Linked DNA regions of Homo sapiens. The protein of the gene in region 4 purifies or fractionates together with the protein of the main gene of each other region. This does not show direct contact. Each region holds a gene or a part of one and is shown on either strand. Other genes may lie near its edges. The genes, in order: RPP30, POP4, RPP40 and POP7.

Evidence for each region.
Region 1: the proteins of POP7 (region 4) and RPP30 purify together in Homo sapiens (co-immunoprecipitation; 5 studies listed by BioGRID and IntAct, with this or other methods). This does not show direct contact.
Region 2: the proteins of POP7 (region 4) and POP4 purify together in Homo sapiens (affinity purification with mass spectrometry; 4 studies listed by BioGRID and IntAct, with this or other methods). This does not show direct contact.
Region 3: the proteins of POP7 (region 4) and RPP40 purify together in Homo sapiens (co-immunoprecipitation; 4 studies listed by BioGRID and IntAct, with this or other methods). This does not show direct contact.

Annotation. Positions count from the first base shown.
Region 1 is NC_000010.11:90,895,522-90,902,718, reverse strand, and holds the end of RPP30 (ribonuclease P protein subunit p30), read right to left. Parts: intron 6,840-7,197; coding exon 6,802-6,839; intron 6,407-6,801; coding exon 6,327-6,406; intron 2,150-6,326; coding exon 2,040-2,149; 3' UTR 528-2,039; downstream 1-527. UniProt on the Homo sapiens protein: Component of ribonuclease P, a ribonucleoprotein complex that generates mature tRNA molecules by cleaving their 5'-ends. Also a component of the MRP ribonuclease complex, which cleaves pre-rRNA sequences.
Region 2 is NC_000019.10:29,601,965-29,609,584, reverse strand, and holds the start of POP4 (ribonuclease P protein subunit p29), read right to left. Parts: upstream 3,303-7,620; 5' UTR 3,267-3,302; coding exon 3,260-3,266; intron 929-3,259; coding exon 876-928; intron 1-875. UniProt on the Homo sapiens protein: Component of ribonuclease P, a ribonucleoprotein complex that generates mature tRNA molecules by cleaving their 5'-ends.
Region 3 is NC_000006.12:4,994,042-5,001,341, reverse strand, and holds the end of RPP40 (ribonuclease P protein subunit p40), read left to right. Parts: intron 1-710; coding exon 711-779; intron 780-1,437; coding exon 1,438-1,533; intron 1,534-2,500; coding exon 2,501-2,626; intron 2,627-4,921; coding exon 4,922-5,120; intron 5,121-5,256; coding exon 5,257-5,391; intron 5,392-6,065; coding exon 6,066-6,264; 3' UTR 6,265-6,625; downstream 6,626-7,300. UniProt on the Homo sapiens protein: Component of ribonuclease P, a ribonucleoprotein complex that generates mature tRNA molecules by cleaving their 5'-ends. Also a component of the MRP ribonuclease complex, which cleaves pre-rRNA sequences.
Region 4 is NC_000007.14:100,700,920-100,707,986, reverse strand, and holds POP7 (ribonuclease P protein subunit p20), read right to left. Parts: upstream 1,867-7,067; 5' UTR 1,683-1,866; intron 1,167-1,682; 5' UTR 1,157-1,166; coding exon 734-1,156; 3' UTR 501-733; downstream 1-500. UniProt on the Homo sapiens protein: Component of ribonuclease P, a ribonucleoprotein complex that generates mature tRNA molecules by cleaving their 5'-ends. Also a component of the MRP ribonuclease complex, which cleaves pre-rRNA sequences.

The DNA.
Region 1 (7,197 bases), on a different chromosome or scaffold from region 4:
ATGAACATATATATGTATGCATACAATATTATTCTACTTTAATTTTGCCATGGGTTTTTATTGTTGTCATTTTAAAAATCAGGAGTGGATTTAACTTTATTAAATGTCTTTCTGGCATCTATTAAAAATATTCTGATTTTTCTCTTTTGACCTATGAATATGATAAAGGATACTGCATTAAAAAGAACTGGAAGGCCGGGTATGGTGGCTCATGCCTGTGCCTGTAATCCCAGCACTTTGGGATGCTGAGGCGGACAGACTGCTTGAATCTGCCAGGAGTTTGAGACTAGCCTGGACATGGCAAAACCCCATCTCTACAAAAAAATACAAAAATTAGCTGGGATGTGGTGGTGCATGCTTCTGGTCCCACTTACTTGGGAGGCTGAGGTGGGAGGATGGCTTGAGCCCAAGAGGCAAAGGTTGCAGTGAGCCGAGATTGTGCCACTGCACTCCAGCCTGGGTGACAGAGTGAGACCCTGTCTCAAAAAGAAGAAGAAAAAAAGAATAAATTTCACCTGGTCATGATGCACTTTTAATGTTTTTTTAATCAATATTTTATTTAAACATTTGTATTCATTGGTGAGGTTATAAAGCTTTCTCTTTTTAAAACTGTATTTTCTCGGGCCGGGCGCAGTGGCTAACGCCTGTAATCCCAGCACTTTGGGAGGCCGAGGCGGGTGGAATATGAGGTCAGGAGATTGAGACCATCCTGGCTAACACGGTGAAACCCCGTCTCTGCTAAATACATGGCGAGCGCCTGTAGTCCCAGCTACTCAGGAGGCTGAGGCAGGAGAATGGCATGAACCCAGGAGGCGGAGCTTGCAGTGAGCAGAGATCGAGCCACTGCACTCCAGCCTGGGGGACAGAGCGAGACTGTCTCAAAAAAAAAAAAAAAAATTGTATTTTCTCCAACCCGCAGAACAGTTGTCTTTCTCTTGCTTAAAAAAATTTCTTATTCAGTTATACCTCTGGCTCTACTCCATTGTTTTAGAGCCCTTACATTAATATTGCATAAATGCATGTATTTGCATAAAAAGCTACTTCTACTTAACATGATCCCATTATAAAAATAAATTATTTCCAAAGTTGGTTCAGTCCGATGCTTTGCTATTTTTAATACAGCTATCAGGAAAATCAATATTAGCGTTTTAGGGGTTTCTAACTAAAAGTAAGGAATCCTATTTCAAAGACCTTACGTAGGCATGAAGCAGTGAAGGAAGAGACCAGATGTAATTTTACATGTGTATCCTCTCTCCTTCCACAAATTCTATAGCAATTTCTTAGAAAAAAATGCTGATTTGAATACATGAAAGAAGCTTAAAACAAGAGGAACTAAAGTCACTTCTTCAATATAAGTTTGAATATCTTCAAAATAACTACTATTTGAGTATGAACAAGAAACTTTCGAAAGAAGCTCTTAAAATATTCAAACATCTGGCTGCATGTGGTGGCTCATGTAATCCCAGCACTTTAGGAGGCCAAAGCGGGAGGATGGCTTGATCCTAGGAGTTTGAGACCAGCCTCAGCAACATAGTGAGACCATGTCTCTACAAGGGAAAAAAAAAAAAAAAAAAAAAATAGCCAGGTGTGGTAGTGCACACCTGTAGTTCCCGCTGCTTGAGAGGCTGAAGCGGGAGGATCACTTGAGCCCAGGATTGAGGTTGCAGTGAGCTGTGATTATGCCACTGTACTCCAGCCTGAGCAACAAAGACCCTATCTCAAAAACAAAATGAAACAAAAATACCTGAAACATTTTATTCAAGTATATTTGCTGTTGTTTATCACTTACACAAAGGAGAAATAACCAGTCTTTCTCTCTTAAAGTACATCTAAATTCATTAAGCTGGCAGCCTTTTAAAAAGATGCTTCACTAGGTTTCGTTTGTTGTTTTAATGGATTGCAAGTAAAACTGTTTTTATAGACTATTGATTTCTAGCTCCAAATGAAAACAGTAAATCACACAAAGGTTTTATTTTTGTTGTGGCTGATGAACTATAAAAGGGAAGAAGGGAGTGCTGACAGAGACTGGGGCATTCTTTTCAGCCCTCACACTTGGCTTTCTTGGAAGCTGGAAGACAATCTTCATCTCCTTCTGATGGCCGAGGTTTCTTCACTGTAGAGATAATTCCAAAAGCAGTTTTTCTAGTTTCTGTAAAACAAACAGGGAAACCACTGTGCTTGAAGTTAAGACATAATTTAAAATGAGGTGGTTTAACATATTACTTTGGCTTACAGCAATAGCAAATGATAAGCCATAATGAACTGCTATGGCTGCTAGTGCCATTTACCGTCATTATCTTTTTTTCCCAACAGACACAAATATCAGTATATTATTAACATCTAATTCATTCCTAAAGATTACCTCATGGGTAAAACTGCAGGACAGTGTTATCTCTAATGGTCTGTCCATGGCATCTTATGTAGCCAGAACCCAGTCACAGACATTGATGTAGCAGACACTTTATATATGGTAGACAGACAAATCAAGAGAGCAAACACAGCAATCAAGTGTATGGCTCCCATGTGGAGCACATGCTTGCCTCATTTTACAGCATGTACCCTATCTCTCTTATTAGAACATCAAGGTACCTCTGAAGAATCAATTGCATTATATTGCCAACACTCAACAATGGCCTGGTTATGCAAAATGTGTTCAGTAAATACTAGTTGAGTTAATGAATAAAATCACTCATAAATTTATTGATCTCTTTAACTGGTGACAATGAACAAAGAATAAATAGAAATTATTAAATGCTTAGATTAGGCTGGCAGCAGAGTTCAACTTAAATTTAACCAATTTTTCCTAGAAACCTACTAATAGGCTAGGCACTGTGTCCATACAGAGGGTATTAAGATTCCTAACAGACAGTGCTTTTCCCTATACTACATGCATGCGAGAAGCACAATAAGAGCAAATATAATAGGAATGGAGGCATCCACAAGAATTAACTGCCTGGTTAAAGCAATGAGGTATTATATAAAGGTGACACTACTCAGAATAGGGTAAACGGAGTAAGAAAAAGAGAAATATTCCTTTACAAAGGCATGGAGAGAAAGATAAGAAGAACCTAGGTAAAATAGTTTAGGGGACAATATGGCTGATGTGAAGTAGGAATACAAAAAAATTAGGAGAAAATAGAGTTTGGAAGGGTAACTTATGAAAGGCCATAGTGTCATGAAAACAGACCCAAACTCTGTCCTTAGAAATGGAAAGGGATTATGGAGAAAGAGAGAGATACCCATTAGCTACAAAGGTGGCAGAATCAAAAGAACTTGAACAGAAATTTAGCTATGAATTATTCCTTATTTCAAGTAATAAACGTAAAGTCAACCATAAAGTGTTAAGCATTATTTTCCCATTTATCAAGATTAACTTAGTAAATCTACTCTGCCAATTATTTTAAAACACTTTTATTTGTAAAAGGGATAAAACTGCTCTCAAGGTCATTAAAATGCCAACATAATAAGAACCTCAAAATAAAAACTGTCAATGATTTCCATTTCACCAAATGAAAAACGTCACACTTATAGCTATTAATTTATGTCACTGATTCTGTACCCATAGTCTAAAAATCAACTGAAATATAAACATTATGAAAATCAGCACTTTTTAACAAAATGCATTAATTTCTTTAGTGTCTTTTAAAAATAAATGCATTTCTTGGTAACAGCAAGACGTTACATTTGTGTATGCTTTAGTTTATAAAATGTTTTCACATATAGTATTTCCTTTAATCATCTTGCCAAGGAAAATCTAAAGGATTATCTACGAGTGAATAATTTTGTTCACAAGGGGCTAAGGCAGGTGTCCCCAACAGGTTCATTTTGGTCCAGGGGCTGATTGAGGGCATGAACTTTATCAATCACAGGCCAAAGACCCTGACCTTGGGCCTCTTTCCTCTGTCCTTTCCCCACAACCTCCTCAGAATTGCTATTCATTGGTTTCTAGATTTCTGGACCCCCAAAGAACCTAATTCTGATTTCCTGTGGCAAGCCTTCCAAGTTGAAAGCTAACTACCATGTGTCCCAACTCTTCTGCTTGCCAGGTATCCATGTCTGCACCACCCTCGTGATTCCTCTCATCATGAGGCTTCCAGACCCTTTAAGGACTGAGTAGACATTTTCCAATAGTGTTTCAGTGCACTGCTGTCCTTCTTAAATGTGGCACTCAGAATGATACAGATGCCGGCTGAGATTTCATCAATGAGAGTATAATAACGAGGCTTTGAATTTCCTTGTCTCAGAATCCTTTATTTCTTCTAATATTACCTAGGCTGAATTAGCAATCTTAAGAACACATCATACTACCGTCTCATACTGATCCCAATGGCAACGAAAACCAGGGTAACCATATTTTATCATCTAGTTTAGGACTCTCTTCAGGGAATAGAAGTGCTAATAAGGTCACAGAAACAGCAGGCATAAACTAGAACTGTCCTGGGTACACTGGGGTGAATGGTAATGCCACCCAAAGTTCACAAGTCTTCTTTAAGTTTAGCTTCTATAAAAGCCTGATTTTAGACACAGAAAGACAAACATCACATGTTCTCACTTGTTTGTGGGATCTAAAAATCAAAGCAACTGAACTCCTGGAGACAGAAAGTAGAAGGATGGTTACCAGAGGCTGGGAAGGGTAGTGGGGGGCTGAGAGGGAGGTGAAGATGGTTAATGGGTACAAAAAAAATAGAATGAACAAGGTCTAGTATATGATAGCACAAGAGGGTGACCATAGTCAATACAATTTAATTGTATATTTAAAAATAACTAAAAAAGCATAATTGGATTGTTTATAACACAAGACATATGCTTGAGGGGATGGACACCCCATTTTCCATGATGTAATTATTATGCATTGCATGCCTATATCAAAATATCTCAGTACCCCATAAATATATACACATACTATGTACCCACAAAAAGAAATTCTAAAAAAAAATACTTTACATATTATGTGTTATATGCTGAATAGCTGAGTTCTTAAAGTCAAATGCAGGACTTCCTATTTTCCTATATATAAAATTATGTATGTATTTATATTTTAGTTTCTGTTTCTTGTTTAGTCCATTTTGGAACCCCAACTGTTACTCAAAATCCTGATGAATGTTTATTTAAAATAGATCAAAATAATGACAGAACTATCAAAGTGTGAACCAACTGTTCCCTAATTTCAAGAAAATCATTATTCAAAATCTCCATTAATTTGACCACTCCCAAAGCTTATGTGATGAGTTCTAGGCTACATAATACAAAAATCTCAAACTAAAAATGTTGAAACTAAAAGCAAAATCATCTAATTTACGGCAAGCCAATACATAAGCAGTTCTCTCAAGTGGAAATCAGATCAATAAAGCCCAACACACAAGCCCTCAATAACCTAGCTATTCATATGACAAATAACTCAGTCTATATGTAGCAATCTACTTTGAAGTTTAAAATTCACTTGGGTGATATCAATGAAATTGCTTCTTAACCACTACAACTAGTCCTAAGAATTATAAAGATAACGAAGACAAAACAGTGATCAAAAGCTTAAATTGTTTTAATAAAATTTCACTTTCATTTTCCAAAGTTTCAGCATACTTTCAATTTTTAACATCTGATGAGCAGGAAACTCAGTCAGTGAAAAGGTACATATACAAAATGTGAGTAAAAAATGTACAGTCTGGCCGGGCATGGTGGCTCATGTCTGTAATCCTAGCACTTTGGGAGGCTGAGGTAGGAGGATTGCTTGAGCCCAGGAGTTCAAGACCAGCCTGGGCAACATAGTGAGACTCTGTCTCTATTTAGAAAAAGAAAAAAAAATAAAAAAGGTACAGTCTGGACACAACTTGACCATGTAAGCAAACATGAGAAAAGAAACATTCTGAGTTATAATAAATGTAAAAGTTACAGTCTATGTTTTGTTAGTTGGATTTTTAAAAATGTATTTGCTGGTTTTGTTTTCCTAATAAATAGTTTAACACATATTTTTAACATATCCGTTCTCTAAAACAGAGATTTTCAACAGGGAAAGCATGGCCTTCTGGTGAGGGAGAAGAAGGAAGGGAGATTAGAAGCCTATCAAAATGTCGGCAGGAGCACACATGTATAGCTGGAAGAACTATTCAATACTTATTTCTGTAATGAAAACTATATTCATTCTACAAACTTTAGAAAGTAAAGCCTGAAGTGAGGGTGAGAAAACACTGATGACTGTGTTTAGAACAGGTTGAGAAAAGATGATCCCAAAGGAACTCTGTAGGGTAGGGCAATAAAAATAGGTATGGCTGTAAAAATGACTTGCTTTTAACATGACCATTCAGTTTGTACTGGAAGAACTTGCTTACCTCCATGGAGAAGCGCTGCTCGGCAGTTGGTGGACACCGCAGCCTTGGCGTCACTTTCAGAGAGCCCAAACAGCAAGCCTCTTGGGGGAGCATTAAAGATTTCAACCCAGAGTCACCCAAGGACACGAGACTAACACAAACATAACAGAAAGTGCCAGCTAACCTGGTCATCTTGAGAGGCTAATTAATTCAACAGCAGTTCTTAGTCCAACTGGAACATGCATCTGAGAAAAGACTCATTTAACTCTAAGCTTTTATCATATGAAGTCCCTCATTCCCTCTTTTCTATCTCATGATTAATTAAAAAACAGAAGCATAAAGCTCTCTATAATGTTATATAATTTATTTTTGAAGTTATTAATTGGTAAACTTACAGTAAAAGGTTGAGAAAAATACATGTTCAACTATAATACGACTTCAAATTCAAAATTTCCTGAAAGACAATGTCAACAACTTTTTACTCAGAAAAGGATACAGATTTGCCACGTCATATGGCCCTCTTATTTCTAAAGGCTGAAATAAAATGAACAAAGAGTAGATATGAGAAAATTATTTATAACATTTCAATGACTTATAGCAAATTAATAGAAAATTTAAGTATCCAAAAATAAAAAAATTACATAAATTTAAGTCCTTATAATTTTGATGGGTTTCATAGCTTTTGAAAATATAAGAGAAGCTTGAAAGGCATTTTGTAACAGTATAAAAGAAAAACTGATTATATAAACAAAAGTTGAAGCCTAAAGAAAGTGGGGATAAATTTTACTATTTAGCAATTACAATGAGCAAATGCAGTTAAAATAGAAAAAAATGCAACAAATATTCATTTACTATTTTAATTTATCCCCTAGAAACTGAAAAGTTTTATAAC
Region 2 (7,620 bases), on a different chromosome or scaffold from region 4:
TAACGGATTCCTCATTTGGTGGCAATGCCACTGCCCTCATGCCTGCCACAGACCTGGGCAGTTCTCTCTCCTGAGGGCCTGTCTCCTGGCTGGGCTGTTTCCTGAGCTCTTTTTGCACTAGCCAGGTGCTAAATGCTAAGACTGAGGCTGACAGACTGATGCTGATCTGTCAATAGTAACGCAGCCTTCCTTCTGTGGGAGAGCAATGGGGATGGGAAGATAGGGTACATATAGCCTTCGAGGGAGCTCACAGTATGATGGTGGGAACTCTGCTTCAGCTTTGCACCTGTAGATGCTAACTAAAAATTAATTCACTCTCGTCATTGTGACTATAATAGGACAATGATCTGATTCTCTTAAATACCTGAGTGGCTCATCTTTCATGGAGAAGCAAAATAAAGGTATACTGGTCTTTCAAAATCTTGCTTTCAAGGTAATGCTCTCATTATGAGCCACAAGAGGAACTTTTGCAAAACTGACAAAGCAGGCCGAGGCATTCAGATATAATCTGTAAATTTCACTTATGATATGTGATTGCACACCTTCTGCAGAAGTGCAGAGGGCACAGTGACAAGGTTGAATGATGCTGCCCACCACGTGGGCACAGCCTGGTGTCCCCAACACAGTGGGAAATGATAAAAGGTTAAGGAAAGCCTCATTTTACCAAACTTGACTTTGGCACAACAGAAAAGGAGGCTGGCACGTGGGAACAGGTAATGAGAACTACAGACTTTGATCCAGCCTTAGATGTCTGCCAGAAAAATGAGGAGTATGATGTGGGAAAGGACATCTCAATCAGTGCTGGGGGCTCAGAAGCTACTGAGCCATCTTTGCCATCACCTCTGTTGCTCCTGGACTCCCTGCCAAGAACTGACCTGGACATCGGAGTCATTCGCCTCTTTCTGAGACAATGCATGGTAGATCACACCTGGGGGATTAAAAAAAAGAAATGATCAATTCTTGTTGGGTATGGCTGTAAGACCCAAGACTTTTCTAACTATGAAAATAACTACGCCACTAGGCGCAGTGGCTCATACCTGTAGTCCTAGCACTTTGGGAGGCCAAGGCGGGCGGATCCTGACCCAAGGTCAGGAGTTCAAGACCGGCCTGGCCAACATGGTGAAACCCCGTCTCTACTAAAAATACAAAAATTAGCCGGGGATGGTGGCTTGCACTTGTATTCCCAGCTACATGGGAGATTGAGGCAGGAGAATCGCTGGAACCTGGGAGGCAGAGGCTGCAATGCGCCAAGATCGTGCCATTGCACTCCAGCCTGGGTGACAGAGTGAGACTCTGTCTCAAAAAAAAAAAAAAAAAAAAAAGAAAAGAAAAGAAAAGAAAATAACTACACTTCTACACTTATAGCAGAACAACTGCTTATTCAGAGATAGGAGAAGATGAGGTTGGTATTAAGAGCAAAGCTTTCTTGGATGCCTCTTATCCCACCCTCTGGCCACATCTATGCTAGAAGTTCCAAGCACATGGTTTAAAAAGAATGCTTCTCAAAATTTAACGTGTGTAAAAATCTCTGGGATCTTATTAAAATGCAGATTATTGGTCTCCTACCCTAGATCCTGAGTGTTTAACATATTCCCAGATACTACTGCAGGTCAGTGAATCACATTTTGAGTTGCATTGGTTTAAAATACCCCAAGTTAGAAGCTTGAGCACTTGCTAACAAGGTAACTCATTAAAAGTTATATGATATAGCTGTCTAGGATGTAGATGGTTAGAAATAGGTTTTGTTAACTGTAAGATGTTTAAAAAGATTCTTCACATTTTAATATGAAATTATAATGTGTCACATAATCGATGGTGTCCTGAACTGATAAAATACAAGTTTTTCCTTTAAACTCAAAATATACATTGGTCAATAAAGTTTCAACCTCTAAAATAAATTCCACACTTCTGTTTCTTAATTTTTTGAAAGAAGAAAACCATGGCACTGGGGACAGAGTACAGGTGTGAATGGAATAAGAATGGGACTACTAAGGCCTGGTTTATGAGCTAAATAGCTAGAAAATGTAATTTACACTATACTCTGTAAATTTAATTCCAGCTTTCTTGTACTTCCCTGAGAATGTTTGATGCAAGGTGGTTACAAGTTTTTTTTTTTTGTTGTTTGTTTGTTTGTTTTGATACTGGGTTTTGCTCTGTTGCCCTGGCTGGAGTGCAGTGGCACAATCATAGCTCACTGCAACTTCGACCTCCTGGTTTCAAGTGATCCTCCCACCTCAGTCTCCTGAGTAGCTGAGACTACAGGTGTGTGCCACCACACCTGGCTAATTCTTTTTTTTTTTTTCCAGTTTTTGTAGAGACAGGGTCTCGCTATGTTGTTGCCCAAGTTGGTCTTCAACTCTTGGCCTCAAGTGATCCCCCTGCCTCAGCCTCCCAAAGTGCTGGGACCACAGGCGTGTCCCACCACACCCAGCCAGGTATGTTTGTTTGATCAAGCAAACCAATGTGGTTGCAAGTTTTATATATAGCATCTAGTTCTCCCTCAAATGGAAGATGGGGATTATAAACTGTAGAGAGCAACTTGCGGGGCCTGATAACTTTGCTTCATCTGTTACAGGTGCTTAGTAACAGACTTGGAAGTCTTTCTGCAACAATACACATCTAACAATTACTGAACATCCATTACTTGCCAGAAACCTCATTACAAGGTACACATATTTTTTCTCATTACACTTATGTGCATGAGCAAACTGAAGCTCAGACATGCCGAGACAATCTACTTGATCATATAGGTAGAAAGTGGCAGAGATGAAAAATAAAAATTCTGATTGAAGGCCCAGTCTTAACGGTGTCTACACGCCCCTCCTTGGCACATGTCTTCTACCCCTAAGGACCAAAGCTTTGGGTTAGTGATATCATTCCCCAGCAGCTCTCGGCGCTTTGCATCAGGTTAAGAGTGTGAAACCAGCTCGCAGAAAGGAGCAGGATCTTGACCGCGGTCACCCCGGGAGATAGTGGCCAAGTTGAGCCAAGGCCTGGAACCCTCCTCTAGCATCGCACACCACTGAGCAGCCTCCGGGAGAACCTGCCTCCAGCCCTGACATCCCTCCCTAGCTCAGAGGTCGAGCCAGGCTAACCCGTGCTCCAGCCCTCAGTTTTTCTTAGGTAGGGTGGGCCCATTCCTGTAGCGGTTCTGTTAGGACTCCGCAGCAACAGGTAGCCCGGACCCATTTCACCCACCAGTACCAAGACCCCGACCCTTAACGTCCCCAACCCTCTCCAACTTCGCGGCCCCGCTTACTCTTCATTCTCGGACCGCTTCCGGCGCTCTCTGATGACGCACTGGCAGCTGCTGTCGCAGACTCTCGGAGCTCGGAGATGGCGCTATGCGTGACATCACCGGCGCTCGCCCACCTCGGGGGCGCATGCGCCTGGAAAGGGATTCGGCTACTGAGAACGTCGTAGGCGGTGTTGCTGAGCAGTGGGGAGGAGTGGGCTCGCTTCCTGGGGTCTTTTCCGCCTGCATCTTTTGGGGGACAGGCAGTAGGGTTGGGGTAAAGGCATGTGGAATGCTTGCTAAGGCCTGGAGTGGAGCGAGGCGAGGCGACTTGGAGAGGACTCGAAGGAGGTTGGGGATCTGGGAGGGCGGAAATGGGACGGGGACGGTGGGGTGAGGTCTTTGTCGTCCCTAATCAGCGCCCTTACGGATGAGCCGAGGCAGCTTCCGCTGTGAGCACGGGCACCGAAGCTGGGACAGCAGGCTTAGGTTCTAGTTCCGTGTCTGCTGCTAACTAGCTGTTTAACCTCGCTTAGGGCACTTCCCATCTGTAAGCCTCACTTGCAGTCTGTGCTGTGAGTGGGGTCGGCCTCACAGGTAGTGATGCGCCGCCTGGGTCCCTTTGATAGTTTCAGAAAGCTTTCTTGAGACTCAGAATATTTATTAGTTTTTATCAATAAAAAAATCATAGCAATAAGATCAAAGGTGGCTCACACCGTGGGAGGCGCAGGCGGGAGGATCTCTTGAGCCCAGGAGTTCGAGACCAGCCTGGGCAACATCGGGAGACCCCATCTCTACAAAACATTTAAAAAAAATTATCCAGGCGTGGTGGTGCGTGCTTGTAGTCCCAACTACTCGGGTATCTGAGGTGGGAGGATCAGTTGAGCCCAAGGAGTTTAGGGCTGCAGTGAACCTGGATTGCGCTACTGCACTCCAGCCTGGGTGACAGAGTGAGACCCTGTCTCCAAAATAAATAAATAAATTCCATATAAATAAATAAATGAATAAACAAACTCCATTGCTCAGTGGAAAGGTGCAGGAAGGCCTGGTGCAGACTTCTCAGCAGTGACCCAGTGTTGGGCAGAACTGTGGAGCCCCAATTTCTGCTGAGCACTGGGCCTGTGCTGGGTGGGAGAGAAAAGAAATACGGTCCCTTTATGCTAAGTCAGTGGTTCTCAACTTTGAGTACAGTATACATTTCTTTACAGGGGATTCTGGGAGTATGTCCAAAGGTTTTAGTTTGAGAAACATTGGCTTAAACAATTTCTTTGGTGGTGACCTTGTACCATTTTGATTTTAAACATTAGACTGCAGGCACTGAAATTGGTTCATCCCAGTGACCCCGCGTGCATTGACTTTATAAAATTTATGTATTAGTTTTTGCATATGTAGTACACTTATGCATTTATTTTATACGTATAAAATTTGGAAAGACCACATTTAAACCAAAACATGCTGCCTTTGCAGATGCCTGAAAATTGTAATTTATGGGACTGATAGAGAACTTTTATTATTTTTAAAATTAACCAATAAGAATTGTATGTATTTATGGTATACAATATGGTTTGAAATGTGTATACATTGTGTAATGGCTAAATGAGCTATGAGCGATGCTAATACACTCATTTTGTGATGAGAACACTTCAGACCTACTCTCAGTGAAATTCAGGTTATTAACTGAAATTCACTGTTATTAACTATAGTCACCATGTTGTACAATAGAGCCCTTCACAAATGTGAACTTTAAAATCAAATGAGACAGCAGAAGATGTTAGCCAGTTTCAGAGCTGTGTACTCAAGGGGGGCCCTTTTAGGCAAGACCTCTGTGATTATGGAGATTAATGAGAAGACCTGTGTCTTTGAAAGTTTTTTTCTAGGGTTGTTAGGACTCTTAACTCCCAGTTGACTCCTTCTGGGATCCCTGGATAACTGCCAGTCTCCCCTCGAATTCCCTGATGGTGGTGGGGTGGGTCGTCCTTGAGTTGCAATTACAACATAGTTCCTTCATCATTAAAATATTTTTTTTTTTGAGACGGAGTCTTGCTGTGTTGTCCAGGCTGGAGTGCAATGGTGTGATCTCGGCTCACTGCAACCTCTGCCTCCTAGGTTGAAGTGATTCTCCTGCCTCAGCCTCCTGAGTAGCTGAGATTACAGGCACACACCACCACGCCCAGCTAATTTTTGTATTTTTAGTAGAGACAGGGTTTTACCATGTTGGTCAGGTTGGTCTCGAACTCCTGATCTCATGATCCACCCGCCTCGGCCTCCCAAAGTGCTGAGATTACAGGGGTGAGCCACTGCGCCCAGCCTAAAATATTTTTTAAAAAGCAAACAAACAAAAAAAATAAAAAGCAAACAAACCACTTGATTATTCTCAGAAAATGTTTCTGTATGCAGAGAGATACCTGTGAGGATGTTTGTGATTTTTGTTTATAATAGCAAAAACTTAAAAACAATGCTATATTTGATCATAGTGGATCAAGCAAATTAACTATGTGCTAATTAGGTAATTAGGTATGCTAATTAATGCATTATTAAATGCATTAATTTACCTGATTAGTTAGCACACACTTAATTTGCTTGATCCACAGACCAAATACAGGATCACAATCACAGGGTAAGCTTTCATTTCAAATTTCTTGGTATCATACCTGGAGATTCGTTTTTATCCAGTGGGTCTCAATAATCTGTTTTTATAAGGTGGGTCCCAGTAATCTGTTTTTATAAACTGTTCCTAGGTATGGCACATTTGTTACAGTAGGTAGGTAGTCAGGTATGAGCAGGGCAGGAGAAGGCTCCCCGCTACACACACCAGGGGTGTTGGGCCACCATCAGGTGATGGTCAGGTGGTTGTTAACTGTTTCTCTAAAGTAATTGGCCACAGCTGGCGCTAGGGAACAGGCAGCCGCCTAACAGATAGAAAACACCTGAAACTGATCAGCAGCTTCCTGTAAGATCTCAGGAGTGGGGAGAAGTAATGTAAGATCCTGGAAGTAGATCCTGGAAGTAGGCCAACGTGTAAAACCCCAAGTCAAGGGGTCAGGCTGCGCTCTTGGTTTCTCAAGTTGCCTGCTTGTCCTTCCAACTTGTATAATACTTTCCTTTTCTTTCCTTTCCTTACTGTTCAAAAGCTTTGCTTTTTTTTTTTTTTTTTTCCGAGACGGAGTCTTGCTCTATCTCCTAGGCTGGAGTGCAGTGGCACGATCTTGGCTCACTGCAACCTCCACCTCCCAGGTTCAAGCGATTCTCCTGCCTCAGCCTCCCAAGTAGCTGGGATTAGAGACACACACCACCATACCCAGCTAATTTTTGTATTTTTAGTAGAGATGGGGTTTCACCATGTTGGTCAGGCTGGTCTCGAATTCCTGACCTTGTGATCCACCCGCCTCGGCCTCCCAAAGTGCTGGGATTACAGGTGTGAGCCATCATGCCCGGCCTAAAGCTTTTTAATAAACTTCCACTCCTGCTCTGAAACTTGCCTTGGTCTCTTTCTGCTTTTTGCCCCTCAGTCAAATTCTTTCTTTTGACAAGGCAAAGATTGAAGTTGCTGCGAACGCGTACGGATTCGTCTCCAGTTACTTGGGGTAACTCGGTTCTCTGCCACTGCTAACACATTTCTATAACATGATGGATTACCATGCAGCCATTAAACAAATTACATACAATTTTTAAAAAGGTTACAAACTAATAAAGCCAAATATATACACAATAGTTACATGAATATACTAAAAGTTTGTATAACCGGGTAAGTGAAGTTATGGGAGATTTTTCCTTTTGTTTCTCTTTTCTAAATTGCATTTGGTGAAAAGACTTTAATTTTTTTCTTTTTTATAGCTATAAATGATAAACTTTCAAACATGGATACACATGTGTTTTCCCAGTAGTGGCTTTGTGAAAGTTCCACGAGAAGTCAATGTTTGATGGAATCATTGCAGGTGACTCCCCTCCGACCTCCAGCAATTTATTATGAAAAACTTCAAATATACAGAATAATGGAAACATTTAAACAGTGAACACCCATATGCTTTTTGATTCTACAATTCACACTTTGTTGTATTTGTACAGGTTCCTTTTGATTGTTGCTCTGAGACATTCAGGCTGCTATTCTGAGTATTCAAGAAAAATCTCATATGTAAGCTCAAAAAGATTAAGCCTCAACTATTAAGTAAGTGGGTATCCACGAAAATTAGGACTTCTGTAAATAAACACAACTAAATTTACAGAAACCATTTATCTAATAGCCTCTGACAATATAGTGGAGAAGTATTTTTTTGTGTATCCCCTCTCCTCCACTTTCGGATTAAAGAAAAACATTATTTCTAGTTTTTTTTTTTTTTTTTTTTTTTTTTTTTTTTTTTGAGATGGAGTCTTACTCTGTTGCCGAG
Region 3 (7,300 bases), on a different chromosome or scaffold from region 4:
ATTTCAAGGCCTGACACCACTCTGTGAATTACGTGGACAATGGCTGTAGCAGGCACTGTTAAATGTCTTACCAAATTTAACCCTTGCAACAACTTTATGAAGCAAGCCTATGATCCTCATTTAACAGTGAGGAAACTGAGGCTTGGAGAGGTTGGGTAGCTTTTGAATCTTAACCTGGAACTCTGTCTCTGAGAGGTGTATGTTTATCTAGAATTCTACTTTGGACCCCTCTCCGCGCATCCCCAAAGGTCACGTTCCGTTCTGAGTCAGTTTTTTGCTTGATGATAGTAAACTTGCACAAATAGGCTGTTGGTCAGGGAGTGAACTAGCTGGAGCTTGGTCTTCTGCAAGCTTGGTCTTCTGCATGCTTGGTCTTCTGCATGCTTGGTCTTCTGCATGCTTGTTCTTCTGCATGCTTGGTCTTCTGCATGCTTGGTCTTCTGCATGCTTGGTCTTCTGCAAGCTTTGTCTTCTGCATGCTTGGTCTTCTGCATGCTTGGTCTTCTGCATGCTTGGTCTTCTGCATGCTTGGTCTTCTGCATGCTGCAGCTTACCCTTAGCAGATGTTTGGTTTATTGAGTGAGCTGGAGCAGGGGTAGAAACTGACCTTTAATGACCCGGAAGACTGGTTATCTTGTAAAAATAATCCACTAACATCTTGCAGGTGTAATTTCTTGTTTTAAATTTTTCCTCTGTACTTTCTCTTCCAGGTTCTTGCTATGCACTAACATACAATACACATATTGATGAAGATAATACTGTTGCCCTGCTACCAAATGGTAACACTTTATTTTTTCATCTTTCTTTAATTGTTAAAAAAAAATGCATACTGTAAAAAAAAAAAAAAAAAAGTCAGCTGGGCACGGTGGCTCACGCCTGTAATCCCTGCACTTTGGGAGGCCAAAGCAGGTGTATCACCTGAGGTCAGGAGTTCGAGACCAGCCTGGCCAACATGGTGAAACCCTGCCTCTACTAAAAATACAAAAATTAGCCGGCGTGGTGGCTCATGCCTGTAGTCCCAGCTCCTTGGGAGGCTGAGGCAGGAGAATCGCTTTGAACCTGGGAGGCGGAGGTTGCAGTGAGCCAAGATTGCGCCACTGCGCTCCAGCCTGGGAGACAGAATGAGATTGTCTGAAAAAAAAAAAGAAGATATTCAAAAGAATGAGTATACCATGACTTATTTATTTCATCTTTAGTAGAAATTCAGATTATTTTAAATTTCACTATTATAAATAATATCCTTGGATGTATAATGTATAAATAATATCTGTTACAAGACATGTATACACATAAATAATATTCTTGTGATATAAATAAGATCCTTGTATGCAGTTTGTTACATTGATATCTAACTGCTCAATTTGCCTTGCTTTCTTTTAGTCAGACAACGTAAGTTCTAGTTTTGGTATCTTATGGGAGTTATTATTTGATTTATAGGGAAATTAATTTTGTCACTGGATAAAGACACTTATGAAGAAACTGGACTTCAGGGTCATCCATCTCAGTTTTCTGGCAGAAAAATTATGAAATTTAGTAAGTATCATGTGTGTTCCATCTGTTTCTAATCTTCTTGTGGCAATTTAAATTTAAATGTTTGAATTGCCTCTAATCTCTTTGTTCAAAAAAATGTGGCCTTTTAAAAAAAATCTGTCAAACTTCTGACTCGAGCTTCACAGAGGATAGGATGATGCTTTTAAGTTCATTTCTTTTCAGCTGTAGATGCATTTAATAAAGATTGTAGACTTGGACTGGTCAATTAAATATATATGTTTCGGGTTAAACCTTGGCAGGCCAAGGCGGGCGGATCATGAGGTCAAGAGATTGAGACCATTGTGACCAACATGGCGAAACCCCATCTCTGCTAAAAATGCAAAAATTAGCTGGGCGTGGTGGCGCATGCCTGTAGTCCCAGCTACTCAGGAGGCTGAGGCAGGAGAATTGCTTGAACCCGGGAGGGGGAGTTTGCAGTGAGCCAAGATCGCACCACTGCACTTCAGCCTGGCGACAGAGTGAGAGTCCATCTCAAAAAAAAAAAAAAAAAAAAAAAAAATTCCAAGTACTGAACCCAAGATAGGAGTCTACAACTTATTCTTAATAAAGAATTTCCTTTGGTTTCCCCAAGTCTTTATGATTACTAGTAGAAATTCACCCATGAGTGAAGAGATGTTTTGCTGACAGCGTCTGGCTCGAACATCAATAGCTAAGGCCGCCACATCCATAAGTAGATTAAACCTGACCTCTCAAGGTCCTCTGCCCTTGGTCTTTGACCTAGGAAACATATAAATTGAAAATGTCTGTTTTTATTAGCTCTCAAGGTTAGAAGTGCCCACCAAAGGGATCTTATTTATTTGGCAAACCAAAGGGAGTGGAAGAAGAATAAAATAATTTTACTATCCATAAAATTTCCCAAAATTCTAGTTTTTAAAAATGTAACACTTTTTCCATGGTAGAAGCTGTACGTATATGAATGAAATATATGTTCTTTTTTTCATTTTTAAAGTTGTTTCCATTGATTTGATGGAATTATCCTTAAACTTGGATTCTAAGAAGTATGAAAGAATATCTTGGTCTTTCAAAGAAAAGAAGCCATTGAAATTTGATTTTCTTTTGGCTTGGCATAAAACAGGTATGAGGAATAAATTATGTAATGATACAGTGATTTTGAAAGTAATTGTTAATTAAAGAGGAGTAATGGAGGATTGAATGGTGATTCACTCTTTAGTCAAGGAATATTCTATACGTATATATAAAAATATTATTAAGGAAACTAGCCCTTCTGACATCTCTGAAAACCATAGTTCAGGATCATGTAGGCACGCAGGCCTTTCTGCCTGCGTCTCTTTGGGTTATATGTAGATCCAGAGATCTTGAGAGTGGCTTCAGAGCAGCTAAATTTTATCTATTTCTCCCCTTTCCTCTCTCCAGCTTACCTTGAACAGCCTTGACTATAATATTTTTAAGTAGCACCAATTATATACACAATCTGCTTATTTATTATCACAGGGTACTGACTCAGGCCTACCATTAAATGTCAGATGAATTTATTCTAACTTTTAATTGATTAGGACACTAAATTTAGTTCAAAGTTTGCTATTCACCACACAGCGTAATCTGCCTAAAACGGCCATGTATGTTGCTCCTTTTAGAAGTGTATCTTTGACCCAGATAATAATGGATCAAGTCATCAGGAATTATGGTGTAGTACTCTCTTTTGGAGGATAGGAAGCATGGTGGTCTGTTTTAGAAATAGCCCCATCTGTCTGCTCCTCATGGGAAGTGTCTCGTCACTGGGTGCTCCAAGTTGCTCCCATGAGTCCTAGGTCTGGCCTTCGGTGCCTCTCCTTCCATATATGGTAGATAGAAAAGAGGGCAGAAAGGCTTATTGAAGTTTCAGTTGCGTGAAGTCTTCTATGCAGATCATCCAGACGTTGGATTCTGGATAGCTCCCTATTCCTAAAGCTCCTAACTATTTTAAGGATTTGTCAGGACTGTGAAAGTTCTGAGATTTCCTCATACTTGCAGGCTAACTAGGTAGCCTGCTACAGTCTCAGGGATGCTGGCAGAAGACACATAAGCCCTGGGTCAGAGACACAGGACTTAATTCCTCAGAGGAATGGTAGTAGCCAAAATGTATTAGTCAGGGTTCTCCAGAGAGAAAGGACCAATAGGATGGATGGATGGATGGATGGATGGATGAGAGGAGATTTATTAGGGAAATTGATCATGCAGTTATGGAGGCTGAGGAGTCCCACGACAGGCTGTCTGCAAGTGGGAGACCCAGGGATGCTGGTAGCCTGGCTCAGTCCAAATATGAAGGCCTGAGAATCAGGAAAGAAGATGGTATAATTCTCAGTCCAAGGCCAAAGCCTGACAACCTGTGGATCTGCTGGTGCAAGCCCCAGAGTCCAAAGGCTAGAGAACCTGGAGTTCTGCTGTCCAAGGGCAGGGGAAGAAGGGAGTCCCAGCTCCAAGGGACAGCGAATTCACTGTTCCTCTGACGTTTTGTTCTACCTGGGGCCCTAGCCGGGTAGATGGTGCCACCCACAGTGAGGGCAGATCTTCCCACTCAGTTTACCCACTCACCTGCCAGTCTCCTCCAGAAACACCCTCACAGACACACCTAGAAATAATGCTTTACCAGCCATCTAGATGACCCTTCATCCAGTCAGGTTGACACCTAAAATTAACCATCACACCGAATATCACCATTTGCACCAGTTCACCAAGTCCCATTTCCAGAGTGACACCAAGCGATGCTGGCACATGCAGTAGGTTGCATTACAGGAGAGGAACCTGGAGTTTAAGAACTCCAGTCCTTTGTAAGGGACAGTAAGCCTGCTGATATCTGCCCGGAGAGAGGGAGGGTGACATTATTTCTATTATACTGGACAGTAAGCAAGCCTGCCCTTTGCCGTGGAGGGAGTACTATCTCTGTCTTCCAAGGCCGTTGGCTACACAAACATCCCTGAAAAGATACGCTGGATTTTATTGGGTTTTCAAAGTCAAGCTGGGATGAGGTTCAATCACCATTCAGTTTCTCTTCTTTTTCTTTAATAGAGGTTGTGCAGATAAGCTCCTTCTCTCTGGAGTTCACTAATATTATTCATACATCAGGAATGCTTTTGGTTTTAAGTGTGAAGTTGAAATTTTTTTATTAGCACAAACAGTGAAACTAGTTTGGGTCTGATCAGAAACTGTTGTGCTTTTCCAGGAAAAGTGTGAAAAACGATGAACGTTTACAGAACTTGAGCAAAAGGAGCTGAAAGCAGCTTTAAATGATTTTAATTTGAATGCAGCTCTGCACAGCTTCCATCTTACTCAATCTTACCGCTCAGATGGGAATGGGTGGGTTCAGGTATTCACTAAACTTGCTTACGATGGTCAGATGGATTCAAATGGCCTTGTGTGGTGTGTTTTTAAGGTTCAGAAGAATCGACAATGATGTCATATTTTTCCAAGTACCAAATTCAGGAGCATCAGCCAAAAGTAGCACTGAGCACGTTGAGAGATCTCCAGTGCCCAGTGCTGCAGAGCAGCGAGCTGGAGGGAACGCCAGAGGTGTCCTGCCGGGCTCTGGAGCTCTTCGACTGGCTCGGCGCCGTCTTCAGTAATGTCGACCTGTGGGTATCTGAACTCCCTGTGTCTTCCAGGGCTCTGGCCTGCTGCTTGTTTTTAATAGGAGTTTAATACTTTGGAAGTGATCATGTGATGGATATACATGTGTTATCTCTCTCTCTTTTATTTTTTTGGTGACAGAAATAATGAGCCTAATAATTTCATATCAACCTATTGCTGTCCTGAGCCAAGCACAGTGGTGGCAAAAGCTTATTTGTGTACAATCACTGGCTTCATACTTCCAGAGAAGATCTGTCTCCTATTGGAACATCTCTGGTGAGAACTCTTTACCTTTTATATCGCTCATCAGTGCTCTATAGAACAGTATGTCGAATAGTATAGATTTTTTCATTTTGGGAGGTGGTATATAAATAAAATGTACATTGAAAGGAACTCAAATCGCCTATTGCAAAGACCGTACATTGAGTATAATCCTATTTAGTAAGCATATCTTCTCAGTCTTCCCTTTTGAAATGTCAGATTTAAGTCTTGAAGGTTTTCCTTTTTAAGCCCAACATCCTTTTTCACATTTATTGGTTTAGTACTTTGACTTTCTTCGATAGGAAGGCTGGATATGAAAAATCTGGTGAATTATCCTGCAACGTTTCAGTTAACTGAGACTCTGAGAACAGTACTCTTAATAGGAGGGAAAGGATCCTTAAACGCCTGTGGGGTTTTTTGTTTTGGGTTCTTTTTGTCTTAAAGACCTCCCAGAATGAGGGTGGGAACAGCTGAGGTTTGTTTCATGTGTTGTATATTAGTTAATCCTTATGGAGTTCACAGTGTGACATCAGGAACTTATCACACACCTCTTGATTTTCAAAAATTAAAGCTAAGATCTAAGCTTTATTAGAATATCAGAAATACTACTTATCCTGAATAAATTTTTTAAAATGCAGACATTCCTAACTCTCTTTTAAAACTCTGTTTAACAACTACCTTTTTTTCAGTCACTACTTTGATGAACCGAAGTTAGCTCCATGGGTTACACTGTCCGTTCAAGGCTTTGCAGACAGCCCTGTTTCTTGGGAAAAAAATGAACATGGTTTTCGAAAAGGAGGAGAACATTTATATAACTTTGTGATTTTTAATAATCAGGACTATTGGCTTCAGATGGCTGTTGGGGCAAATGATCACTGTCCACCATAAAAAATAAAAATTAAAAATCGTGTTTACTTACATTTACGCTTGCTTTCAGATTTCTTAATGGTAAAAGGTCTGTGTGTCCACTCAGGCTTGTGTGATGGTGACATTTCTCAGATCAGCATTTGCTGGCATCCTGCCCTGCACCTGAGACCCATCTGTGATGGCAGCAAGGCCTGCTGTCCAGTGAATAGCTCATAGTTGATTTCTCTCTGTCAACATAAGCACAGGGTTGTGGGTTACTATGTGGTACACTGGGCCAGGATGTCCAGGGACCGGGGATATTGGTCCCCATCTCACTCCATTGGTTGAGATATATTTTGTTCATTACAACTTTTTCAGATAATAAAAAGAAATCTCATCCTTACCAGGGCCAGTCCCTGTTGTAAGTGCTGTTTATATATTACCATGTTAGAATCTCACACCAACCCTTTGAGGAAACTGAGGCACAGTGTGTAAATACACTACCGAAGTTATAGTGGCAGTGGACCTGAGACTTGATCTCAGGCCAGCCTAGTTCCTAAGTGTGTTCTCACGCTAATGCCTCTGGATCAGAGAGGGATCAATGGATACTGTAAATCGTTACAGAACAGGTTGAAAGAATTTTATTTCCAGCAGTAAGGCTGATAAGGACCAGTTGAAAACAACTAAAACTTTAGAATACATATGAAGAACCATTTTTTTTTTATTATACTTTAAGTTTTAGGGTACATGTGCACAACGTGCAGGTTAGTTACATATGTATACATGTGCCATGTTGGTGTGCTGCATCCATTAACTCATCATTTAACATTAGGTATATCTCCTAATGCTCTCCCTCCCCCCTCCCCCCACCCCACAACAGGCCCCGGTGTGTGATGTTCCCCTTCCTGTGTCCATGTGTTCTCATTGTTCAATTCCCACCTATGAGTGAAAACATGCGGTGTTTGGTTTTTTGTCTGAAGAACCATTTTTTTAATGTAAAAAACAAGAGCTGCAAAATAAGAGTTCTTAAAGGGAAAAAAAAATTTTTTTTTTTGTAAATGGAAGCAGAAACCCAAAG
Region 4 (7,067 bases):
TGGGGCTGGGCACGGTGGCTCACGCCTGTAATCCTAGCACTTTGGGAGGCCGAGATGGGTGGATCACAAGGTCAGGAGATCGAGAACATCCCTGCTAACACGCTGAAACCCTGTCTCTACTAAAAATACAAAAAAATTAGCCAGGGTGTGGTGGCAGGCACCTGTAGTCCCAGCTACTCAGGAGGCTGAGGCAGGAGAATGGCGTGAACTCAGGAGGTGGAGCTTGCAGTGAGCCAAGATTGCACCACTGCACTCCAGCCTGGGTGACAGAGTGAGACTCTGTCTCAAAAAACAAACAAACAAACAAACATTGGGATGACTGGGTTTCTGCACTGTACTGTTTTGTTACACTGCTCATAGCATAATCTATGCTCTCTATAGAGGCAAGAAACACTTGGGTTCCCCTTTCACCTAGATACCTGTAGCGTTTCCTACCATCCCTATTCAGGCACACACAGAATTTACACAGGAAAGAATCAGTGGCAGTGGGATGGCAGGACACTAGTGCAACAGGATTTTTTATTTATATGGCAATAGTTACAGACCGCATACACACACTCAGGAAGGCCCACTAACTGGGCCCACCAAGAGACAATTACCCCCACCCTCAATGCAGAGTCCTTTGGGCTTCCAGGGAACAGGCCTTTTCTTACATGGCTCTGGTCCGAGGTCCAGTACTCAGCATGCGAAGAGCCATATCACGGAGGGGATAAGTGGAGGAGTGTCTTTTCAATTACTTGGGTGTGACCCTGAAGACTCGGATGTGGATGGCTGAGTTGTTGCGGATCCGAGTCAGTGGCTCCCGTGTGTCGGTCTCTGGCTCCAGCTCATCAACAAGCTCCACGGTGGAGGTATTGGCAGCCACCTGCAAGGACCCGAAGCTGCCCGCCTGCAGCTGCAGCGCGATGTTGATGGCGCGGTTGATGGCCAGGCCCAAGCCGTGAATGTAGATCTCAGAGCACGCGTTCTGACCCCGGGCCCCTCCGTCCAGCAGCTTCTGGCAGCGGGCCAGCTGGGCCTTAAAGTCCGTCTTCATGTTGACATAAATGTCATTGGGTCTCCGGGGCAGGCGGCTGGGAAGCCTTTTCCTAAGGGTGTATTCCACTGGATCCAGTTCAGCCTCCACAGCACCGCGGGGCTCTCGGTTTTCTGCCATGCTGTGTGCCCTGGCGTGGGAAAGGGACGCGATCAGAGGGCTCAGAGGGACCTCGAAGCCTTTCCTACCCCTTTTCCTGTACAAAGGGTGCACCTGGCCGGGCAGTGGCTCACGCCTGTAACCTCAGCACTTTGGAAGGTCGAGGCGGGAGGATCACTGGAGCCCGGGTGTTTGAGATCAGCCTGGGCAACATAGCAAGACCCTGTCTTAAGAAAAATTTTTTTAATTACCCGGGCCGAGGGGGGAGGATCGCTTGAGATCGGGAGTTCGAGGCTACAGTGAGCCGTGATCGCGCCCGCCACTGCACTCTAGCTTGGGAAACAGAGCAAGCCTCTGTCTCAAACAAAAACAAAAACAAAAATAAAGGGTGCACCCGAGAAGGGACACACTCGATGTCCCTGTTTCCTTCCGGCCCCTCGTCCTCTCCCACTCACCTCCAGATCCCGCGTCTCCCCACCCCCCGTTCCGATTCATTCATCGCGTCGCCCTCAAACTCGCGCCCCTCCGCCGCCCCTCCCGTGCTTACTCTCTTCGTTCCACAGGGCCCTCCAGGCGCGCGAGGCCCGCTCCCCGCCAGGCCACTCAAGGGTTCGCCGGCCAGCCCAAGTAACCGCGACCCCAGGTCCCAGAGAAAGAAGGATGTGGGTGCAAGCAGCCAGCCAGCTCGTGGGCGCCCTGCCCGCGCCGGGGTCCTGAACGGGCTGCGGAGTGCGCACGCGCGCCCGTACCCCGCGAGCTATGAATCGCCTTCCCGGCTTCCGTTCGCCCCGCCCCTTCCCTGAGCGCAAGGGCGACTGCGCGAGGCGTTTGAGAAACGCGAGACTTCCGGGCGTGACGGGATCTACACGTGTACGCCTCGGGAACTGGCGGGCGGCCGAGGGCGGGAACCAGGTCCGAGCCGGGGAGGAGCTAGAAAGGGCCGGGTCGGCGTCTCTAGGCCTGGCGGAGTTCCCGGCCGGCGGAGGGGTAGCGTAGGGAAGACACCTGGAGGGGAGGCTGTTCTAGGGGCAGGGTTCTTCCCCATGGGAGCAGGGAAGGGGCCGAGTTCAGGAGACCGCGGTCGCCAAGGGGCCTGAACTCCGCGTCCGTCGCAGCTCCTCTGGTCAGAAGAGGCCTGGGCAGGGCTGGCAGAACTGACCCCCTAGTCTAATGTCCCTGTGGCCCGAGGACCGAGGGGGAACTGAGGGACATAGCCGGTCCCCACCTCGCTGGAGGACAGCGTCCCGGGACTCCCCTGCAGTTCACGGGAAGCTGTCCGCCTCCTGTCTGTGCTGGGGACCCACGCTGTGAGCCCTAAGCCCAGGCTTCACGGGTCCCCAAGGAACGCTGACCCACCCACGCCCCTCAACCATCTCCCACCAGCTCTGCAGCAGGCGACCCCGGATCAGGGACTTGCCGCCCCCTGGCGGGCAAGGTGGGGAGGACGCGCGCCGGATTCGTGGCTCTCAGGCCAGTGGAGTGGGGGCTCTGCCCAGATGGGCATAGTTTCTGCAGAGTTCCCTTCTGAAATGAGTAGGACCTGCTGCACTGGGGACCTTGAACTACTCTGTTTGCCCAGCATTCAAATGGGGATGTTCACAACAGCTCCACCATATTGCACATGCATTTTATTGAATGGCTAGCTGTATAGCTTCTGTCTACAAACTTGCATGCATTTATTTTTGAGACAGGGTCTCTGTGGCCCAGGCTGGACTGCAGTGGTGTGATCTCAGCTCACTACAACCTCTGCCTACCGGGTTCAAACGATTCTTGTGCCTCAGCCTCTTGAGTAGCTGGAATTACAGGCGCACGCCACCGCACCCGGCCAGTTTATTTCATTTTTTTGAGACAGGGCCTTACTCTGTCACCCAGGCTGGAGTGCAGTGGCGTTAACACGGCTCACTGCAGCCCTGAACTCCTGGGCTCAAGCAATTCTCCCGCCCCAGCCACCTGAACAGCTTGGACTACGGGCATGCACTAGCATATAAAGTTGTATTTTAGAAGTTAATCCTTGGTATTGAAATTTTCGATATGTTGGCCGGGCGCGGTGGCTCACGCCTGTAATCCCAGCACTTTGGGAGGCTGAGACGAGCGGATCACGAGGTCAGGAGATCGAGACCATCCTGGCTAACACGGTGAAACCCCGCCTCTACTAAAAATACAAAAAATTAGCCGGGCATGGTGGCAGGCGCCTGTAGTCCCAGCTACTCGGGAGGCTGAGGCAGGAGAATGGCGTGAACCCACGAGGCGGAGCTTGCAGAGAGCCAAGATCGCGCCACTGCACTCCAGCCTGGGGGACAGAGCCAGACTCCATCTCAAAAAAAAAAAAAAAGAAATTTTCGAAATGTTCACATAATTGTTGGGAGCGATTCATTCCTCCTCACATGATGTGCCTCCTCTCTCCCATATCCTGTTAATTGTAGCAGTTGCGGGCATTTGCGATGACAGGATATACGGATGGTGCCACACTTGACCTTGAGTACTGGAATGCTCTGAGGTCAAGCATATGCCACAGTGCTTGAGACTGTGGGCATCACCTGTAGTGTCTTTTTCTCCAACTCCTGTCTCCTTGGTCCTAGGGAGGTCTGGCTCTAATTGCTAGTTTCCAGAGATTCATTCCTTTTTTTTTTTTTGAGACGGAGTCTCGCTCCGTTGCCCAGGCTGGAGTGCAGAGGCACGATCTCAGCTTACCGCAACCTCTGCCTCTGAGGTTAAAGCGATTCTCCTGCCTCAGCCTCCTGAGTAGCTGGGATTACAGGTGTGCACCACCACGCCCGGCTAATTTTTGTATTTTCAGTAGAGATGGGGTTTCACCATGTTGGCCAGGCTGGTCTCAAACTCCTGATCTCAAGTGATCCTCCTACCTTGGCCTCCTAAAGTGCTGGGATGACAGGCTTGAGCTATTGTGCCCAGCCTCATTTTTAAGCTTTGGATCACAGGAAGAAGCAACAAGAAACTATACCCAACTCAAAACATTTTAGGAGAATCATAAAATTGGTCCATTTAGAAGGTAGAGTTGGGTCCATTAAGTTATTGTTGCAAGAGGTTGCATATTCAATGATCAGTTATATAAAATAATGTTCTCGTTAGTATGCTTTTCATAATCTGTTTTATCATACATGTAACATTCAAACTGACAAATACACTGACTTGGGAATAAAGGATATGAAAACACTGGTTTAAAAAAAATGGGGATGCTAATTCCTTTCTTGCAGTTGAGTTGTGAAACCCAAGGTAATGTTGTAAACTGTAAACCTACACAGGTGAGTTGGCATATTTATGTCTCCCAGGCCCTTCTCAGTTCCCTAGGATGGAGTCTGACCCCATTTGATCAAAGGTTGAAGAGAGTTCAGATTCTAGAGAAATTTGCTCCCAGCACCCCATTTCAATCCCATAGTTCTTTCCTTTACTTCAGATTCTTTCATTAACCACAAGATTGGGATTGAATTGGAAGATCCAACATATTATAGTAAAGATACCAATTCTCTTCAAATTAATCTATAGGGGCCAAGCATGGTGGCTCACGCCTTTAATCCCAGCACTTTGGAGGCCAAGGTGGGCAGATCACTTGAGGTCAGGATTTCAAGACCAGCCTGGCCAACATGGTGAAACCCCGTCTCTGCTAAAAATACAAAATTAGCCGGGTGTGGTGGCACGTGCCTGGTACTAATCCCAGCTACTCAGGAGACTGAGGCAGGAGAATAGGTGGAACCCAGGAGGCAGAGGTTGCAGTGAGCTAAGATCACACCACTGCATTCCAGCCTAGGCAACAGAGCGAACTCCGTCTCAAACAACAACAACAAAAACCCAAATTGATCTATAGGCGTAATGCAATTCCTACAAAAATCCCAGCAGTTTTTTTGTATTAAATATAGATGTTTATTCTAAACTTTATATGGAAAGGCAAAAGAAGTAGAATAGTTAAAACCACTTTGAAAAAGTTGTTGGAATCACACTACCTGATTTTAAGACTTACTATATAAATAAAGTTATCAAGAAAGTATGGTTTCCCCAGTGGGATAGACACAAAAATCAATAAGATGGAATTGAGAGCTCAGAAATAGATTCACACAAGTGCAGCCAACTATCTCTCTTTAAAAAATAATTTTTTGTTTGTTTATAAGACAGTGTCTCACTTTGTCACCCAGGCTTGGAGTGCAGTGGCACAATCTTGGCTCACTGCAGCCTCAACCTCATGGGCTCAAGTCATCTTCCCGCCTCAGCCTCCCAAGTAGTTGGGACTATCAGCACGCGCCACCATACCCGGCTAATTTTGTTTTATTTTTTGTAGAGACGAGGTCTTACTACGTTGACCAGGCTGATCTCGAACTCCTAGACTCAAGCAATCCTCCTGCCTCAGCTCCCTCAAAGTGCTGAGATTACAGGCGTGAGCCACTGCCAAACAACTTGTTTTTGACAAAGGTATAAAAGCGTTTCAATGGGGAAAGGATGATCCTTTCAAGTGGTGGTGAAACAATTGGACAAATAGGCAAAGAAATGAGCCTCAGCCCTATGCAAAAAGTTAATACAAAATGGATAGTAGATTTAGGAAAAAACTTCATGGTGTAGGGTCAGGTGAAGAGTTTTGTTTTTTTGTTTGTTTGTTTTTTTGAGATGGAGTCTCACTCTGTCGCCCAAGCTGGAGTGCAGTGGCGCGATCTCGGCTCACTTCAACCTCTGCCTCCCGGGTTTAAGAGATTCTCCTGCCTTAGCCTCCTGAGTAGCTGGGATTACAGGCACATGCCACCATGCCCAGCTAAAGGCGAAGAGTTCTTAGACATGACTCCAAAAGCACAATCCATAAAAGAAAAACAATTGGGCTGGGCACGGTGGCTTATGCCTGTAATCCCAGCACTTTGGGAAGCTGAGGTGGGTGGATCACCTGAGGTTAGGAGTTCAAGACCAGCCTGGCCAACATGGTGAAACCCCGTCTCTACTAAAAATACAAAAAATTAGCCGGGCGTGGTGGCATGCGCCTGTTATCCCAGCTACTCAGGAGGCTGAGGCAGGAGAATCGCTTGAATCCGGGAGGCGGAGGTTGCAGTGAGCTGAGATTGCGCCATTGCACTCCAGCTTGGGCACCAAGAGTAAAACTCCGTCTCAAAAAAAAAAAATGATAAATTGGACTTCATCAAAATGTTTAAACATTTGCTGTGTGAAAGATCACATTAATAAGATGAAAAGAGTAGCCACAGACTGGAAGAAAATATTTGCAAATCATATATCCAACAAAGGACTTGTTTCCAGCATATATAAAGCACTCTCTAAGCTCGAGAGGTAGAAACCGAACAACCCAATTAGAAAATGGGCAAATCCAGCCTGGGCAACATGGTGAGATCCTGTCTCTACAAAAAATTTAAAAATTAGCCAGGCCTGGTGGTCTGTGCCTACAGTCCTAGCTACTCAGGAGGCTGGGGTAGGAGGATTGCTTGAGCCCAGGAGGACAGCACTGCAATGAACTGTGATCATACCACTGCACTCCAGCCTGGGTGACAAAGTGAGGGTCTGAGAAAGAAAGAGAGAGGAAGGAAAGGAAGAAAAAGGGAAGGAAGGAAGGAAGAGAGGAGAGAAAGAGAGAAAGAAAAAACAGAAAAAAGGAAGGAAGGAGGGAGGGAAGGAAGGAAGCAAGCAAGCAAGCAAGCGGTGGCTCTTGCCTGTAATCCCAGCACTTTGGGAAGCTGAGGTGGGTGGATCACCTGAAGTTGGGAGTTTGAGACCAGCCTGGCCAACACGGTGAAACCCCGTCTCCACTAAAAATACAAAAATTAGCTGGGCGTGGTGGCGGGCGCCTGTTAATCCCATCTACTCGGGAAGCTGAGACTTGAAAATCGCTTAAACTTGGAAGGCAGAGGTTGCAGTGAGCCAGGATCACACTATTGTACTCCAGCCTGGGCGACAGAGCAAGACTGTCTCAAAAAAAAAAAAAAAAGAA